Homo sapiens: one gene and its partner. The protein of the gene in region 2 purifies or fractionates together with the protein of the main gene of each other region. This does not show direct contact. Each region holds a gene or a part of one and is shown on either strand. Other genes may lie near its edges.

Region 1 (8,263 bases), on a different chromosome or scaffold from region 2:
CACATTACTAAAAACACAATCTACATTCCAGCCAGGGCTGGTGGTAAGTTCAGAAGAAAGCCACAGAGGCCTTGAAAACCAGATTTCAGCTCTATGGAATGAATTTTCCCCTTATGTCCCGTCTTTATCTCAACCTCAGCATGTTTTATTAGCACCCCTAATTAGGTGGGTGTGGGTAGAGTTAGAGCAGCATTGAGTGGGACTGGTGGACTCTCCATCCACCTAAAGCAGCAAACATTAAAAGTCCCTCAAAAGAAAAGGGGTAGGGGAGGGGAAAGAATGGCCAATGTGAAAATTGCTGTGTCTCAAAGCATTACAGAACTGCTCTAGCATCCTAGTTCCCAGGCAGTTGTCCCAAGTCTGGGTTTTCTGAGACTTGGGTCTTCACTTGGCCATCTTTGGCCTCTGTCATTTCACTGTTAATGAGAGCTGCTGGCATCGTAGGTCCTAAGAGGCTGAGTCCCAGAGCAAGCTTACAGACAAAGAGATGCAGGCAGCACCCGCTAGATGCAAAGTCATGCCCAAACTTTTACAACAGCAAGTACATACAACACAGCACTGACAGTTCCATCTCAGTACAGACTCCCCACCTCATCTTCCCTCCCTGGCAGTTCCTGAGCCTGGGGTAAGGACACAGGTGTATAGAACAACCCCCCTTAAAATGCTAACCCTTTCTAGTAGGACCCACCTTGTGGGAGTGGCTTGAAAGAATCCATAATTTCCCAAGCCAAACAAATTCAGAGCTAGGTCTGTTCTTTTTGATAAAGCCAAATGAAGCAAGAGAGAGGGAGGTGAGCAAAGCTTACCAATGATCACCATCCAGTGCTGGTTAGAAGCCACTTTCCAGGAGAGGAACCAATGAACAGCGAAGAGTTGCAGCCACACAGCTGAGATCAGAAAAGACCACATACACACTTGGAGACTGTGTCCCCATCCCCACTCAATTCATTCAAAAGGAATTCTACGAAGCAGCCTCTTGAGCCTCATTTTCTTTTTCTTAGAAATTTGAAAACATCTGTGACTAGAAAAGTAGTCCTAAGAATTAACACCATCGTTTCAGCCTACCACATTGTAGTTTGGCAGGCCAGGCTCTGCATTCCAAGGGGGCAAGTGCTGGTTGCTCCAGAGGCCTTGAGGAGAAATCTAGGGGCAGACCAGGTGTGTGCTTCAGCTCCAAGTTTCTCTTGCTTTAGCAGCAAAATGCGGCCTCTCATCTCTACCAAAGCAACAGTGGACTCGTACCCCTCCCCACCTCCCAAGTAGTTCAGGGGATGGGGTGGGATGTGCGAATAAAAATAAAGATGAGTCAAGACCAGCATCTTCAAATTAACAAACTGTAATTGTTTTCCCAAAGATACATTTTTTTCATACACATCCATCATACACTGTAACCAAAAAAAGCAGTGTACATGAAATAAGAGAAAATAAATTAAAAATCCATAGCATAGGTAAGGAGGCTCTAGTCTGGAGCACAGCTGAGTTTCCAGCAATATAAGGAGGCTCGAAAGTTTCTTTTATAAGAATGCCTGCTAGCAAGGGTTCCAGCAAGGTGGTTGGTTGGTCTGTAAGTCAGTCTTGAGTACTTGAAACAGTTCTGTGTTTGTTTTTTTTCCTTAGCGTTTAGAATAGCCATCATTGTCCTGCAATAGGCAGAGCTATCACGTCCAGGAAAAATGAGGGAGGGAACCACAGAGGCAGCGTGAGATCCAAATACAGCATTCAAAGGTAATTGGTCCAGTGGTGCCTGGGGAGGGAGGAAGGGTGATACTCCAGGGTTAGCCGTCTTCTTTTGGGGGTGTGTACCAGCCTGCAAAGAAATGGAATGGTCAGTGAGGTGAAGGTTCAGGCCCACCCTCCCTGTCCTGCCCCAATCCCTGAAGACGTCTCCAGTGGCAGAGATAAGAGGATATTGGGGAGGGCTATGCTGTGTGGGGAGAGGTGTATGGGAAGCTGAGAGCCTGCATACCTGGAGATGAGAAGGGGGAATGATGTGCCCAACCTGAGATGATGGGAGAGTTAGATGAGCTTTTTCAAAAGGTGGTCAAGAAGGGGGTAGCACCAAGTTTATCGGTGATACGATCATTTTGGTGTGTTTCTGGAAGAGGTTGTGAATGTTAGCCACCGCCAGTCCCTCCTGGGAGAACTGGGGCAGGTGCTGTGTTAATGGGTGGTTGAGTATCAGAAACCAAAAGAAGGGGTTCTTGCTCTGTGGCTGGAAGTGAAAACCTGGGTGTGGCAAGTGTCCGAATCTCCTGAGTCCTGGCTCCAGCCTCACCGTTTTTTTCGTGGATCTGCACCAAGGACTTGTAGGACTGCTGTGCTCTTGTCAGACTGTATTGAGACTGGGGAGAGGAAGCCACCAGATCAGGCCATGGCTAGCTGTGGCCTTACTGCCCCTCACCTTCTGCAGGCTGTCACCCAGAGACCCCAGAGTCCCAGCTCCCAGCACTGTGGTCTAGTAAAACACTAAGTACCCTCCACCTTCGAGGTCCCTTGGAGGCATAATCCCATAGTCTTCCTTTTCCAGACCCGAAACCTCCCAAAAGTCCTAGGGGTGCCCCTAGGGGCCAAGGCACAGTTGTTCCATTGTGGGCACCCTAGGCCCTCTCATCCAATGCCACCAGCCCGGGGGCCTTATGCTCATTCCTCTAAAGAAGGCAGCCTTGGCCTGCTAGTGGCCCCAAGTGTACTTGGCTCCACCCAGCCCCACCAGCCCCAGGACCAGGATCCTTACTTTGTTGGCTCCAAACTGCACTCGTGCTTTCCCCTTCACCAGTGTGGCACTGATCTGCATGATCACTGACTCTATGGAGTAGGCACTGCTCCAGCCCTGGGTGAAGGGAAGGACAAGGCAAGCAGGTCCAGATGGAGCTTCCAGAGAACCCTCATGCTTGTCCTCTGGGCAATCAGCTGTGTCTATAGGAGGGCCCTTGCCCTTTGCCCCCAGCACTGCCACCACCTGTCTGTCTAGGTCAGTGGGTGCAGACCCAGCCCAGCAGAATGAAAGGGCCACATCATGTCTATCACCCAGCCCGTAGGGGTGTGTGCTGTAAAGCTCAGACAATCCCCGCCCAGGCCGGCCTGGCCAAGGAGGAGAGACAGGCTCACCTGTTTGGTGAGAAGTTCCATGCAGATGGCCCCTCCGCCCAGAACATACCTGCATGAGAAAGGTTAGTCAGCTGTGCCTGACAAAATCTCCAAGTCTCTTCCCCGCCCTCTGCCAGAGGAGATGCCCTCTTCCGCATGCCAGCCACTCACCCTCCAGAGAGGACTGGAGACACAACCCTGACAAATGGTGGGTCAAAGGGAAAGTTATCCTGAGAGAGAGAGAGACGACAATCAGGGGAGGGAGGCCAGCATCCTCCACAGGACTGTCAGGCAGACTGGGCAGCCTAGGCCAGAGGGAGAGACTGGAAAAGAAAAGTCTTACTTTAAAGGAAAAGTTAAGTAGAATGAAGTCGGCTCCTTCTTTCTCTTTGAGGATCTGGAGATCGTTGTGCAAAGCGCTGTCCTGGTCAACTCTAAGAAGCAACAAGCCTGGGCTCAGATGCCTGGTTCCACCTCAGGAGCTTCATAAGGGCTCCCCTGCCCTGGCTGGCAGCAGACCACGAAACCACTGCCCACACCCGCTCCGGGACCCTGAATGAAAATGCTGGATGGGGCTGCCCTGGAGATCCCACCACAGTAGCCCCACTCACACTCCTCCTCAACTTCCTCTCCAATCCCAGAGTCCCCACTCACTTGAGGAGTTTGACATTCCAATCATACAGACTGTCATTCACGAGTTCGACTGCATAGTTTCCTGGAAGGAGGGAAAAAACAGGTGTTAGTAGAATGGTCCAGGTGGTGAGTGGTCTCTAATGCAGACCCCTTTCCCAGACTGAGAGAAAAAGATCAACAGCTCTAGGTTCACCACAGATGGACATGCAACCAAGCCACTGGCTTGAGGAGCTCCATTCTTGGCCTGAAAAGTTCATAAGCACTCCTGGACCCCAGAACCTCTTGGGCCCCTTGCCACCATACCCTTCTTTATGGGTGACTCTTGTGCAGGCCCCTCTCTGGGGCAAACTCACCGCCTTTGAAACTCTGTGATCGGTATATATCCCTGAGCTCCTTCATCAGCCGGTCAGTGGCCTGCACCGAGCCAGACACTGCACCCTGTGAGGGACGGATGACAGGAACATTCCTTGGTCGTGTGGTTTATAAACACACGTTAGACCTTAGGGGCAGTCTGGCAGCTTGCCCAGGATTTAAGAAAGGATTAGGCACAAAAAAGGAGTCTGCTCTCCATACTGAGATGCGATGGCCTACTACTTCCCAGCCATTTCCCACCAACCCCTTCACCAGCCTCTCTCTAGAAGGCACGTACATTTAAGTAATCTTGCCTCTGGTTCTTTTTAATTTTCTCTAGGATGGCCAAGTTTTCTTTTCCAATGCCATCATCTTCAGATTTCTTGCCCTCAGCTGGCTCTTCCTCTTTCATTTCATAGTGATCTAAGTCTTCTGTGTCCTGGAGGAGGTGTGGGGTGGGAGTGAAAAGAAAAGGAAAAAAACCGACACAGGTTAGAGAATGACCATCACCTTCCCAGTCCCATTTGGCGAAGAGCCAAAAGTTAAAGTGAAGCAGTCCATCTAGCAGTCTTATAAACGCAACGTGCTTTCCATTTTTAGAACAATTTCCAGCCCCATTCCCTCCACAGTCTAAATCTTCAGCTCTCAAGCTACAGCAAGGACTTCGGAAACGAGCAGAGCTGCAGCTGAGATCGAGGCAGGGACTTAGCCCTCTTGTTTCCTGGACTGACCCTGCTCCAACTGTTCCTAAAACTCCCTTGGCAGCAGAAACTCTTCCCTAATTCCTAGCAGAAATGACTTGGGCCTGACCCTGTGACTCAAAGCTCATGTTTCACCAGGTGACTATTGCACCCGGGAGTTCTCAGGGCCCCAAGCCTAAAGGAGAAACCTGAATCATTACATCTCCTCTCCTCGCTACAAATGCAAGGCATGAATCAGGTATGCAGAGGCACGCACTGCCAGATGGAAATGAGAAAGGATGTCCAGAGAGATATATGGAAGAGGTCAAGAACAGAATTAGCCCCTTATTCATCCTGCTCTAAGTGAGCAAGCAACTAGCTCACTGAGCATAGGGAAGGAGGAGAACCTATGTAGGGTTGAGCCCCTCAGCCAGATGTTGGGGGTGTGGCCCAGAGGGCTGTCCACTATCTGGGAGGAGTAAATTTCATGTCGTCAGCCCTTTGCCAGTCTCAAGAACCTTACACGGTTATAGAACCTGGGATATTAATCTAATGCTAGGAAATAAAAGTAATCAGAGTGATCTCCCCATTTCTGGCAGGACATACCTAATTACCACACCAGCAGGTAATGTCTACTGAGTGTTTATTACATGCCAGGTTCTGTCCTAGGTGCCGCAGATACTAGCTCATTTCATTCTTACCACCATCACTCATTATTCTATCATTATCCATTTTATAGATGCGGAAGCTGAGTCTAGTGAGGTCAATTATCATGCCCAAAGTCACAGCTCTTAGCAGAGCTAAGATTCAGTCAAGTTCTGTCTAGCTCTAAAGCTCAAATTCCTAACCATGATTTTATATTCTGTATGTTTTTAGAGAATATATCAGATAGATTGTTTAGCATTTATCATGTATCATCTGAAGCATTTTATATATAACACCTCATTTAATCTCAAGACAACCATATGCAGTAGGTATTATAATCCTACTTTATAGATAAGAAAACTGTAGCTTAGTGAGATTACATAAAATTCCTCAATTAGGATAGCTAGGATGCAAACACAGGTTTGTTGGACTCCAAAGCCATTTGAAATTAACTTACCCAGTATTTGGTTTGAACCGCGCTGCACCTGTCTTCAGTGGTTGGATATGGGTGCCCTGTCTCCTCTACTACACTGGCTATTCCTCCAGGTCAGTAAATCTGTCTTTATTCCTTTGATATTTTTCTCTCTCCAGTTTTAGACTGGAGTTCTGGATATGGGTACCAATGTTGCTGACTGCAAGAGCTTCCAGCCAATGCCACCTCAGGGGGCAAGCCTACCTCAGGCATCTCCTCATCTTCATCTTCTGAAGACACGTCTTCCTGTGTGCACTGCAGCAAGGAAGGGAAAGATGGAGATCAGAGCCCCAGTGGCTTGCTAGAATGCAGCCTCCAACCTACTCCCCTGAGCCCCCAGGTCTGGAAGTTGTGCGCCTGCCTGTAATGCTGCCAGTCTCTCCACCAGCCAGATCTGAGTGGAAGCAACAGCCCAGGGAATGGCTTTGCTACCAGCCCATTATTTTTCGCCTATCACTGCCAAAGAATAAAAGAAAAGCAAAATGGCTGTCTCTGTCACCCACCTCCTAAATCCTAGTTTAATTCTCCTAAGAACCCCTCCTTTACTTGATCTTCTTTAGACTGATATTGCATTCTTGGTTCTCACCAAGGGGCCTGGGTCCCCAGTGGCCACCAACTGTTATTGCTAAGATAATGGTAAAAATTCCCCCGCTCCCTTTCAACATCTGGGATGCTGCCCATGAGAATGAATTTTGATATCAGAGATGAAGCTACCAGTGCCCCATTTAGCAAAAGAAGATTCCCATCTGGAGAAGAACGAGGGTGAGAGTCATAAGACGTGTATGTTTTTGGGAGCCGGTGGGGATGGAGAGAAACTACTGATTTGTCTCAATTATTTACTGAGTACCCTGTGGGGCAACTCTGCACAACAGGGCCCGAGGCTCCTCAGCTGCTCACCTGCTCTGCTGGCAAGGGTTGATCCAGCATCTCCACATCTGGATGCTGAGGGAGGTTATAGAGTTTACACAGGTCGGAGATGATCCTCTTCAGATGCTGCAATAGCTACAGGTAGGGGAGCACAGAGACATCAAATCCTTCCCCACTCCGATCTGGATAAGTGCATGGATGAGCTCTTAGTTTGGGCCCCACACCAATAACTAGTTCTCTAAGCCTTATGGGCCACGTGGCTGTGGGAATGAGTCTCCTGATGGACCAATCCCAGGGCCGATGCAGGGTCTCCCTCTGGCTTCAGTAAGCAACTCCCCCGAGAGGTCATCCCCTAAATGTTTAGCTGTGTACCGTCCACTTTTCAGGATCCCTTTCACAGGATGCCTTTGTGGCATGGGCCTCATAAGAACAAAATGTACCCCTACCCTGTGGCCCCCTCACCAGAGTATTCCCTTTCTTTATGTCCACCAGCCTCTCCAAGACAGCAGCCAAGTTAGGGTCATCAGACTCCACCGACCAGATGGGGGGCACAGCAGGGTATGACTCCTGAAGGGAAAAGAGCAATAAGAGCAATCAAAATGGGTGACTCTGGGAAAAGCCAGATTTTGCCTGTCCTCTTCCCCCCAAGACTTCTAGCCCCTTTGCTTCCCACCCCCACCCCCTACACACACATAAAAGCCCAACTTAGGTCAGCATCTAACCAAGCAGCTTCACAACAAATTCTAAACTGGAAGAAAAACAGTCCCTGGGAAGACCCTTTCCGAGAAGCAGACTGAAACCTTTTCTTTCTTTCCTCGAGAGTACAAACCAGGAAACCTAGCACAGCCAAACTTGGCTAACAGCGAAGGGGGACTCCTCATCTCCTGCACTGCCTATACAAGTTCTAGACTTCAAGTTCTCCCTGGACCCAGAACAGTCCTCCAAGCTTGCTTTTCAAACTCCAGAATCGGCTGAGGAAGGGATCACCTCATCACAATGACACTGAAGTGAAAAAAGCAGAGTTCAGTAGGGAAGAAGTATAAAAACTAGACTGTATCTCCAGAACCCAAGAGTAAAAGGGTACTGGCAAGAATCTACCCACACCACTTCCAGAAGAGCCCCTCAAAGACCAATTCTCCCCACCTCTCCCTTGGGAACCTGCCACCTTCTCAGTCCAGGCGTGGGCTGTAGGGCTCCACATGGCAGGCTGGGAGAAAGAAGCCTACGCTACTGACATTCCCAGCATTCCTGAGCCACGGTGCCAAATGCAGCCTGACCAGACTCCCTCTCTGCCCAAACCAAGGGGGCTAGTTTAGGCCAAGTCTCCTTTATAGCCATGGGGAGTCTGGCTGAGGACCCCCTAAATTTAACTTCCTGCCAGGGACAAACGCAGTAAATGGCCTCTGGCAACAGAAAGAGCAGCTGGATAGGGGCAAACCTACCCTTAAGGAATTAGAAGCTTAATTCAGGAACAAAATTAACTCGAGGTTCCCACACAAGCCAGGGAAACCTTATCCACCTCTACTGG
Region 2 (9,619 bases):
TGGTGTGATTATCTTGGCTCACTGCAACCTCCGCGTCCTGGGCGTAAGCGATTCTCCCACCTCAGTCTCTCAAGTAGCTGGGAGCACAGACATGCGCCACCATGCCTGATTAATTTTTGTATTTTTTTTTTGGTAGAGATGGTGTTTCGCCATGTTGCTCAGGCTAATCTCAAATTCCTGGGTTCAAGCAATCCGCCTGTCTCGGCCTCCCAAAGTGCTATGATTTTTATTACCTGGAAAAGGAACCACAGGCCAAGCATGGGCCATCACATTCATCCTGTGGCTCCTTTTTGGGGTAATAAAAGTATTCATAAAATATTCTAAAATTGGTTTCAATGATGGACGCACAACTCTGTGAATATACTCAAAAGCACTGAAGTGTATACTTTAGATGGGTGAATTATATAGTATATGAGTTATATCTCAATAAAGCTATTTTTAAAACCTGCCTGTTTCTTTTCTCTCTGTCACCAACTAGAAAGTAAGCTCCATGAATGCACAAACTTCTGTTTTATTTAGCACAATGCTTGGAATATCAGAGAACCTCAAATATAGGGGAAGGAAGAAAAGAAGGGAGAGAGGAAGGGAGGGTGGGAGAGAGGGAAGGGAAAGAAAGGATGAATGCAGGAAGGTAAGAAGTGAAAGGATAGAGGGAGGAAAGAAGAGAGGAAGGAAAGAATACAGGGAGGAGGGGAGAAGGAGGATAGAAGTAACTGCCAATGAAGAAACACCCAGAGATCACCCAGCTAATAAGTCCTCAGAGATGCAAATTACGCACTTGAGATAGAGGACAGATTTTTTTTTTTTAAGACAGGGTCTTGCTCTGTTGCCCATGCTGGAGTGCAGCGGCGTGACCACAGCTCACTGCAACCTTGAATCCCTTTGCTGAAGCTTCCCCCTACCTCGGCCTCTCAAGTAGCTGGGACTACAGGCGTGCACCACCACACCTGGCTCATTTTTTTTTTTTTTAAGTAGAGACTAGGTCTTGCTATGTTGCCCAGGCTGATTTCAAACAGGGCTCAAGCGATCTTCTTGCCTCAGCCTCCCAAGGTGCTGGGATTACAGGCAGGAGCCACTGTGCCCAGCCAGAAGACAGACAGAGCTGTCTCTTTGGACCTCTTCAAATCTTTTTCTGTGAGGCCTTTAGGTGGGAACCTTTAAAACAGAATTCTACTTATACCCTCAACAGCTTCTAATCACACTAAGAAGAAAACACAAACCTCCTATCTTGGCTTACATAATCTGACCCTGTCTACTGCTTCCACTTCTTCCTTCTTGGAGACCAGAGCCCACCACGCCCTTCCCACTGCCTGGCTTTGGCAAAGGCCACCCGCTGACCTTCATGTCTCACCAGCCACGTCTCAGGGAGCCACCCCACTCTCCCCCCTCCCCCCCACTCTCCCCCTCTTTCACAGTCTTCCTAACACTCACTTTGCTATTTTCTTACACGTGCATTGTCTACCACCCCCTCTAAAATTAAGTCCCGTAAGAACAAGGACTTATCTGTCTTGTTCACGCCTATATCCCTCAGGCATAGAAGAGGGCTGCCACAAGTCTGTGCTATTTGTAGAACAAAGACACAGAAGCTCCAAATTTAGGAGACGATTCAGGAAGAGAGAATGCTACAAAGGCTGAGCAGTATTTCTAGAAGAACGCCAGCTCACAGTTACAGAACCCCTCATCCACCTCCCCAACTTGGCAGTTCCTTAAAAACAGGGATGGGCGGCATTTGTCCTCTAGGACCAACACCAAACATGTGCTGGCTGAATGGGGGGGTCAGTTTTCATTGAATTTGTGGTATTCACTTTCACAGACTCCTTCTCCAGTAACTACTGGTTTGTGCTTTAAAACAAAATGTTTTGCCAGGCGCGGTGGCTCACGCCTGTAATCCCAGCACTTTGGGAGGCCAAGGCGGGTGGATCACGAGGTCAGGAGTTCGAGACCAGCCTGCCCAACATAGTGAAGCCCCGTCTCTACTAAAAATACAAAAATTAGCTGGGTATGGTGGCATGTGCCTGTAGTCCCAGCTACTCGGGAGGCTGAGGCGGAAGAATCACTTGAACCTGGGAAGCAGAGGTTGCAGTGAGCCAAGACTACGCCATTGCACTCCAGCCTGGGTGAAAAAGTGAGACTCCATCTCAAAAAAAAAAAAAGTTTCACCATGTTGCCCCGTCTGGTCTCAAACTCCTAAGCCCAAACAATCCACCTGCCTCAGCCTCCCAAAGTGCTGGGATTACAGGCGTGAGCCACTGTACCCAGCCCCAGGCACAGATGTTCTTAATGTGACCTACCTAGAATGATGACTCCTTCTCAAAAGGTTTACAATTTACTTTGCTTAGATCTGAAGAATCATTATCTATGGCAGCTATATCCTCATGAAATGTATTTCTTAAATAATAAGACTTGAAAGTTGAAATTAGCCAGGCATGGTGGTGCACGCCTGTAATGCCAGTTACTGAGGAGGCTGAGGCAGGAGGAATCTCTTGAACCCGGGAGGCAGAGGTTGCAGTGAGCCGAGATCCCGCCACTGCACTCCAGCCTGGGTGACAGAGCAAGACTTTGTCTCAAAAAAAAAAAAATGGAAATTACTCCTTGATCCAGGGGCTGCAGAACACATGTTGTTAGAAGGCATGAAAACAACATTCATCTCCTTGTACACCTCCAACAAAGCACTTGGCTGATCAGGTACATTGTCAATAAGCAGTAATATTTTGAGAGGAACCTTTTCTTCTGAGCAGTAGGTCTCAACAGTGGGCTTAAAATAGTCAATAAGCCATGCCGTAAACAAATGTGCTACCATCCAGGCTTTGTCACTGCATTTCTAGAGCCCAGGCAGAGTAGATTAAGCATGATTCTTAAGGGTCATAGGGTTTCTGGAATGGTAAATGAGCACTGGCTTCAACTTCAAGTCATTAGCTGCATTATCCCCTAACAAGAGTCGGCCTGTTCTTTGAAGGTTTAAAGCCCGGCATTAACTTCTCTCTAGCTATAAAATTCCTAGATGGCATCTTTTAATGTAAGACTGTTTGGTCTACATTGAAAACCTGTTGTTTAGTGCAGCTACGTTTGTCAATTATAATGGCCAGATCTTCTGGATAACTTGCTGCAGCTTCTCCAGCAGCACTTGCTGTTTCACCTTGCACTTTTATGTCATGGAGATGGTTTCTTTCCTTGATCCTCACGAACCAACCTCTGCTAGCTTCAAATTTTTCTTCTAAAGATTCCTCACGTCTCTCAGCCTTCACAGAATTGAAGAGAGGGACTTGCTCTGGATTAGGCTTCAGAGAATGTTGTGGCTGGGTTGATCTTCTATCCAGACCACTAAAACTTTCTCCGTATCAGCAATAAGGCTGTTTCACTTTCTTATCATTCGTGTGTTCCCTGGAGTAGCTCTTTTGAGTCCCTTCAAAAACTTTTCCTTTGCATTCACAACTTGGCTGTTTGGCACAAGAGGCATAGCTTTCAGCCTGTCTCAGCTTTCTACATGTCTTCCTTGCTAAGCTTAGTCATTTCTTGATTAGTCATTAGCCGGGTGTGGTGGTGCATGCCTGTAATCCCAGCTACTTGGGAGGCTGAGGCAGAGGCTGCAGTGAGCCGAGATCATGCCACTGCACTCCAGCTTGGGTGACAGAGCGAGACTCCGTCTCAAAAAATAAATAAATAAATAAATAAATAAATAAGTAAATAATAAAGTGAGAGACATGCATGTCTTCCTTTCACTTTAACACATAGAGGCTATTGTAGGGTCATTAACTGGCCTAATTTCAATATTGCTGTGTCTCAGGAGAAGAGGGAGGGAGATGGGGGATGGCCTGCAGTGGAACAGTCAGAACACACACAACATTTATCAATTAAGTTCACCACCTTATATGGATCTGGTTTGTGGTGCCCCAAAACAATTGCAATAGTAACATCAAAGATTACCGATCACATCTTATAACAGATGTCATAAGAATGAAATGTTTGAAGTATTGTGAGAATTACCAAAATGTGACAGAGAGACACAAAGTGACCACACGCTGTTGGAAAAGTGGTATGGAGAGAAAGACTTACTCGATGCAGGGTTGCCACAAGCCTTCAATTTGTAAAAAACCCAGTGTCTGTGAAGCACAATAAAGAGCAAGAAAGCAGGGCATGGCAGCATATCCAGACCAAAGCGCTGCCTTGCTTCTGCTTTACACAAACTTACTGCAAATCTGGAGCATCTAATGCTCCTATGACTGGACAATTTTAGGCCCTTTCTGGATTACAAAGTCAGCATGGGATGCTCAATGCGAAAGTTTTAACAATATATAAAATGCTATAAGGCAATCTTCACAATGTATCACAAACAAAGCAAAACAAGGGTGGCAGAGATTAATTTCTCATCTCTCCTTCCTCAAATCTAAATGATACTGCAGATCACTAGCCTGTCATGCTTAAATAGTGTCACCTGAAACTGAAATGTGCTTAGGTAATTTACAATTTTTACAAAACACAGGGTTGTATACTCATTCCCCTATTTGGACCACTCTGGGGAAAACCGCCTATGTAAGTTAGTGCAAGAGCCGGACACCATAAGCAAGAGCCTAGTGATAACCAAGGTTCATCTGTGACAACCATCACTGGCCCTGCCACTCACTCACACCACAAGAACAGGAAAGCTTTAGAGCTGGATCACAGAAACAGTAACCAAGGTCAACACTGCCTTCTATTTCCTTGCCCATGGAAACATATGGATTGAGTGAGAAAGCTGAGGCCTGGAGACATGAAAGGAATTGCTGCCACTGTCCAGGGTCACACACATCAGTGGCAAGGCCAGGAACAGACTCAACTTCCCTGTGCACCTTTTCACCACCTCCCTTCCTCTGGTGACCTTTTTTTTCTTCCTCCCTCGCAGCTCCTCCTTTATTTTCTTCCTTTTCTTGCCTGTGGTAACCTACAGAGAGTACTGGACATCAGTTAGGGCTAAACGGGTTGGTAATCTCTAGACTAGATCTACTCAAAATCTATTTTAAAATAAAATAGAATGTTTCCAACATCTTACTCGTTGACTTCCATGTCCTGGTCATCAGAAGACTCATCTTCTCCTAGGACATTTTCAGAATCTGGTTTCCGAATGAGAAAGAATAGAACTGTCCCCACAAGGCTAATCACCGTTAGGGCAATAAACACTGTTCTTCGGTCACTCTCTACGGAGAAAAAAGAAGAAACAAGATAGTATCGACCAAACAATTCCAGAATTAGTATCACGGTACAAGGGCTGCTTACAACTGTCAACACACTTCCTCGTTACATTTTTACTTTAATGCATCAGTAAAAACCTAGGAAAAGGAGACAAATAGGATACCTTCACCTTTGTCTTTCAGTTAGAGAAATATGAATAAGCCAAAGAAAAACAGCACAAGGGCTTAATCGCCTTCTTTTAATCAAAGAAGGGTCCAGAGAAAACAACTGAGCATTCAGAAGTCTTCTGAGAACCACATACTCGTGCGCAGTATTCTCGTAAGCTCGTGCACAGCATAACCTTCCCTTAGACCCTGAGAAGCCCCTTAAAGCATAGTCATAAACTATAATCCTAGTTTAGTAATAGAAACCAGGCTGGGAGGGATGGCTCAGGCCTGTAATACCACCAATTTGGGAGGCTGAGGAGGGCGGATCACCTGAGGTCAGGAGTTTGAGACCAGCCTGAACAACATGGAGAAACCCATCTCTACTAAAAATACAAAATTAGCTGGGCGTGGTGGTGCAGGCCTGTAATCCCAGCTACTTGGGAGGCTGAAGCAGGAGAACTGTTTGAACCCGGGAGGCGGAGGTTGCGGTGAGCCAAGATGGCACCATTGCATTCCAGCCTGGGTAACAAGAGTGAAACTCCATCTCAAAATAATAATAATAATATAAACCAAGGAAAAGTCTTACTAAAAGCTAAAATCTGCGAGAACTTGAGGTGTCGGGGTTCATGAGAACGATGCTTGAATAAAGCAATAATGGGTATTTCTATATAACTCCTATTATGCTTTGAACATATCTGAATAAAGCAACGCGAATAAAACAAACCTGATATCTGAGTTTTCCCTTGCCAGGCAAAATATATGTAGAGATTTCCAAAGAACAAGCTGGGGGAAGAAAAGGGAGGATAGGATGTTGGGTAATTATTTTAATATTTATAGTTTTTTAAAAATAATTATTCCCATTATTTGTTGTAAGAGAGGGAGAGAGAAGGACATCATTTTTAAAGTATCTACCTGTCCTGGGTCATTTAAAAGTATCAGCTTCATCTGGACTCTGATAAACTTAACTGCCCCAGATGGAATTCAGTCTCCTTCCATGTGACAGTAACCTGATTCAGAGGCACCCTTCAAAGAAGAATTGACTCACTTTGAAACATGTGATTTATTGCAACTCTGGAAATGACTCCCTGGAAATAAGCTTAAGCTAAATTTTAAAGAATCTGTTTCTAAAAATCCATGATTTAGTTATCTGCATCTAATCAAATACTTTCTTTAGCATACTTTCCTGAAAAATCATTCACTTACACACTAGTTTCTTAATATACAACTCTTTAAAATGTAACATTTGCATTTGTTAAGCCTTGTCAAGGCCAAAATTTTAGGCGCGATTCATGAGGGTGATTCCTCAGAAGAGATTCCAGAAATCCAACAGTCAAGAGCAGAATAGCTGTTTTGCTTTCTTCTTAAGAAAAATGTTAAGGCCAGGCACGGTGGTTCACGCCTGTAATCCCAACACTCTGGGAGCCCAAGGCGGGCGGATCACAAGGTCAGGAGTTCGAGACCAGCCTGGCCAACATAGTGAAACTCCGTCTCTACTAAAAATACAAAAAAAATTAGCCGGGCGTGGTGGTGGGCGCCTGTAATCCCAGCTACTCAGGAGGCTAAGGCAGGAGAATTGCTTGAATCCAGGAGGCAGAGCTTGCAGTAAGCCGAGATCGTGCCATTGCACTCCAGCCCAGGTGACAGTGTGAGACACCGTCTCATTTAAAAAAAAAAAAAAAGTTAGTATGCTATATTCAGTATTGGTATAAATAGTCCTGAGTAGCTAGTGAGCCACCATACTCAGCCATTATTACAAGTGATTCTATAAAATTGGAATCACGTCACATTTAGCTAGAACTTAAGTCACGTAACATGGAAGATCCAAATTGTCAACCAAAGACCTAAAAAATGGTATGACAGAAAAAAAAGAAAGAAAAGGAAAGACTGAACCTCAAAAGGATAATTACCTAGACTGCAGAAGTGCCCAGAAAATCCCACTGTTTCTCCCAATGCTGTGCTCATCCGAATTGATTGTCAGGCAGTTTCCTTGTGCTGTCCAAAGCACTAAAATTCAACCCAAAAGTTTATCAAGGGAAAGAAATTCACTTAGAGTCACATACTAAACACATAAATAATACCCTTAGATAGGCCCCAGAAAAGAAAGCAGAGAAGTTAAAAATCAAAATGCTTACCAGCAGCAGCAATTCCAATGAAAACAGAGGCTGTGTAGAAGGACCACGGGAAAGGCTGGATGAAAACGGCAATGTACATGCTAAAATATAACAGGTCAAGGTATTACAGTCAAACGATACCTGAAATAGAATGCCAATTATGCCTTCTAGGAATCAGTTCTGACATTCTCTTCTTTTAAAACTCAACCTGTAAAGGATCGCTCCAGTTTTGAAAAAAGGGACACAATCAACTTTCTCATTTCTTAATTAATTAATTTTTTTGAGACAGGGTCTCACTCCATTGCCTAGGCTGGAGTGCAGTGGTACCATCACAGCTCACTGCAACCTCCACCTCCTGGGCTCAAGCCATCCTCCCACCTCAGCCTCCTAAGTAGCTGGGACTACAGGCATGTGCCACCAAGCCCGGCTAATTTTTTTTTATTTTTGGTAGAGACAAGGGTTTCACCATGTTGCCCAGGCTGGTCTCGAACTCCTGGACCCAAGTGATCCTTGGCTCAAGCAATACCTCGGCCTCCCAAAGTGTTGGGATTTACAGGTGTGAGCCACTGTGCCTGGCCCATAATTTATTATTTCAGATTTGCAAAATCAGACATTTTACAGGTTTGCAGTGTTCTTTGCCAAAAGCTTAGCACATCATGGAACTATAGTTCTAGAGTTCAGAGAAAGATTTAGTTATTTCATTTGAATCCCCACATATTTTCAGTCAATTGACAGAAAATAAGATTATTTCATAGAATGTTCTTTTCAACCCTCATAGAGACTTTTGGATACTATTTTTATTAACAATAAAACAAAAGCAGATATAGATACATCCTATCACATTAGAATATGATATCCCTGAGCAACAAGTACTGAGCCAAAATTCGTAAAATACCACCTATATTCTATTCAGTCCAAGTCTATAAATTATTGTGAAGTTTACTATCTACTTGAAAGATCCTGACAAGTGTTCTGATTAAATAAGTGCAAGATTACACTACTTACCTGTAAAATAAACCACTGGCAAACATAGAGAGTTGAGGTCCTACAATGGCAACCACTGACGGTGTAATCAAATTTGAAGCAGAGAACACTCCATAGATAATAGCCATGCTGCACACATAATACACAAACGGAAAAAAAAAAAAAAAAGAACAAAGCCCTTATATGCTGTGTCACTGTTTAAAATCCATTTGTTTATAGATTTTACAATAAACACTCATATTATTTAGTCAGAATTTATGATAGTTATATCATTCAATTCAATACCATATAAAAGTTTTCATTTGTACAAAATATTGAAGCCCACCAACTGTGCCTTGGGATCAGTCTGCCTACAATACATTTTTTACATACTGGTAAGTCATAGTAACAGGAACTGTGCCAAGTACCTTATACAGATTTTCTCTTCTAATCCTAACAGCACTAGGAGAAAGATATTGTTATTATCCTCATGTGAAAGAAAAGAAAAAGGAAATACAGTGGGATTAAGTAATTTGCCAAAAGTCCAGCTGGGTGGCTGGTGAATGTCGAGCCAGGACTGCATGACTCCAGAGGCCCCAGTCCACCAATCTGCCCTACAAACTTAGCCTACAACTCTGGCAGCGTCATGACATTTCTCTGCTATAAATAACAAGCGCAGAGCTACAACTTGCTTAAGCCAGAATTTATTTAACTCAACCTAATGGTCTCACTTGAACATTATTACTCAGTTACTATTGACCCAGCCCTAGTACATATGTCTTGTACGAAGTGTGGTTAAAACCATTTCAAAGGCCCTGAATTCATTTACTAGATACTATTCATAAATCCAAAGTAAATTATTCTTTGGCTTTTATGAATCTCTCAAATATCAAATGTGTTTTTGCATTTGTTCTTTTTTTTTTTTTTTTTTTTGAGACGGAGCCTCGCTCTGTCGCCCAGGCTGGAGTCCAGTGGCACAATCTCTGCTCACTGCAAGCTCCCCTTCCCGGGTTCACGCCATTCTCTTGCCTCAGCCTCCCGAGTAGCTGGGATTACAGGCGCCCACCACCATGCCTGGCTAATTTTTTTTTTTTTTGTATTTTTAGTACAGACGGGGTTTCACCGTGTTAGCCACGATGGTCTAGATCTCCTGACCTCGTGATCCGCCCACCTCCGCCTCCCAAAGCGCTGGGATTACAGGCGTGAGCCCCCGCACCCGGCCGCATTTGTTCT

The links.
Region 1: the proteins of MFSD11 (region 2) and UBE2Q1 purify together in Homo sapiens (affinity purification with mass spectrometry; 2 studies listed by BioGRID and IntAct, with this or other methods). This does not show direct contact.

Annotation. Positions count from the first base shown.
Region 1 is NC_000001.11:154,548,663-154,556,925, forward strand, and holds part of UBE2Q1 (ubiquitin-conjugating enzyme E2 Q1), read right to left. Parts: intron 7,303-8,263; coding exon 7,198-7,302; intron 6,871-7,197; coding exon 6,766-6,870; intron 6,367-6,765; exon of another isoform or gene 6,124-6,366; coding exon 6,073-6,123; exon of another isoform or gene 5,988-6,072; intron 5,011-5,987; exon of another isoform or gene 4,947-5,010; intron 4,511-4,946; coding exon 4,370-4,510; intron 4,159-4,369; coding exon 4,074-4,158; intron 3,803-4,073; coding exon 3,742-3,802; intron 3,522-3,741; coding exon 3,431-3,521; intron 3,318-3,430; coding exon 3,259-3,317; intron 3,158-3,258; coding exon 3,109-3,157; intron 2,831-3,108; coding exon 2,735-2,830; intron 2,343-2,734; coding exon 2,276-2,342; intron 1,808-2,275; coding exon 1,776-1,807; 3' UTR 1-1,775. UniProt on the Homo sapiens protein: Catalyzes the covalent attachment of ubiquitin to other proteins. May be involved in hormonal homeostasis in females. Involved in regulation of B4GALT1 cell surface expression, B4GALT1-mediated cell adhesion to laminin and embryoid body formation.
Region 2 is NC_000017.11:76,739,874-76,749,492, reverse strand, and holds part of MFSD11 (UNC93-like protein MFSD11), read right to left. Parts: intron 8,537-9,619; coding exon 8,429-8,536; intron 7,565-8,428; exon of another isoform or gene 7,525-7,564; coding exon 7,445-7,524; intron 7,317-7,444; coding exon 7,220-7,316; intron 6,096-7,219; coding exon 6,037-6,095; intron 5,172-6,036; coding exon 5,027-5,171; intron 1-5,026.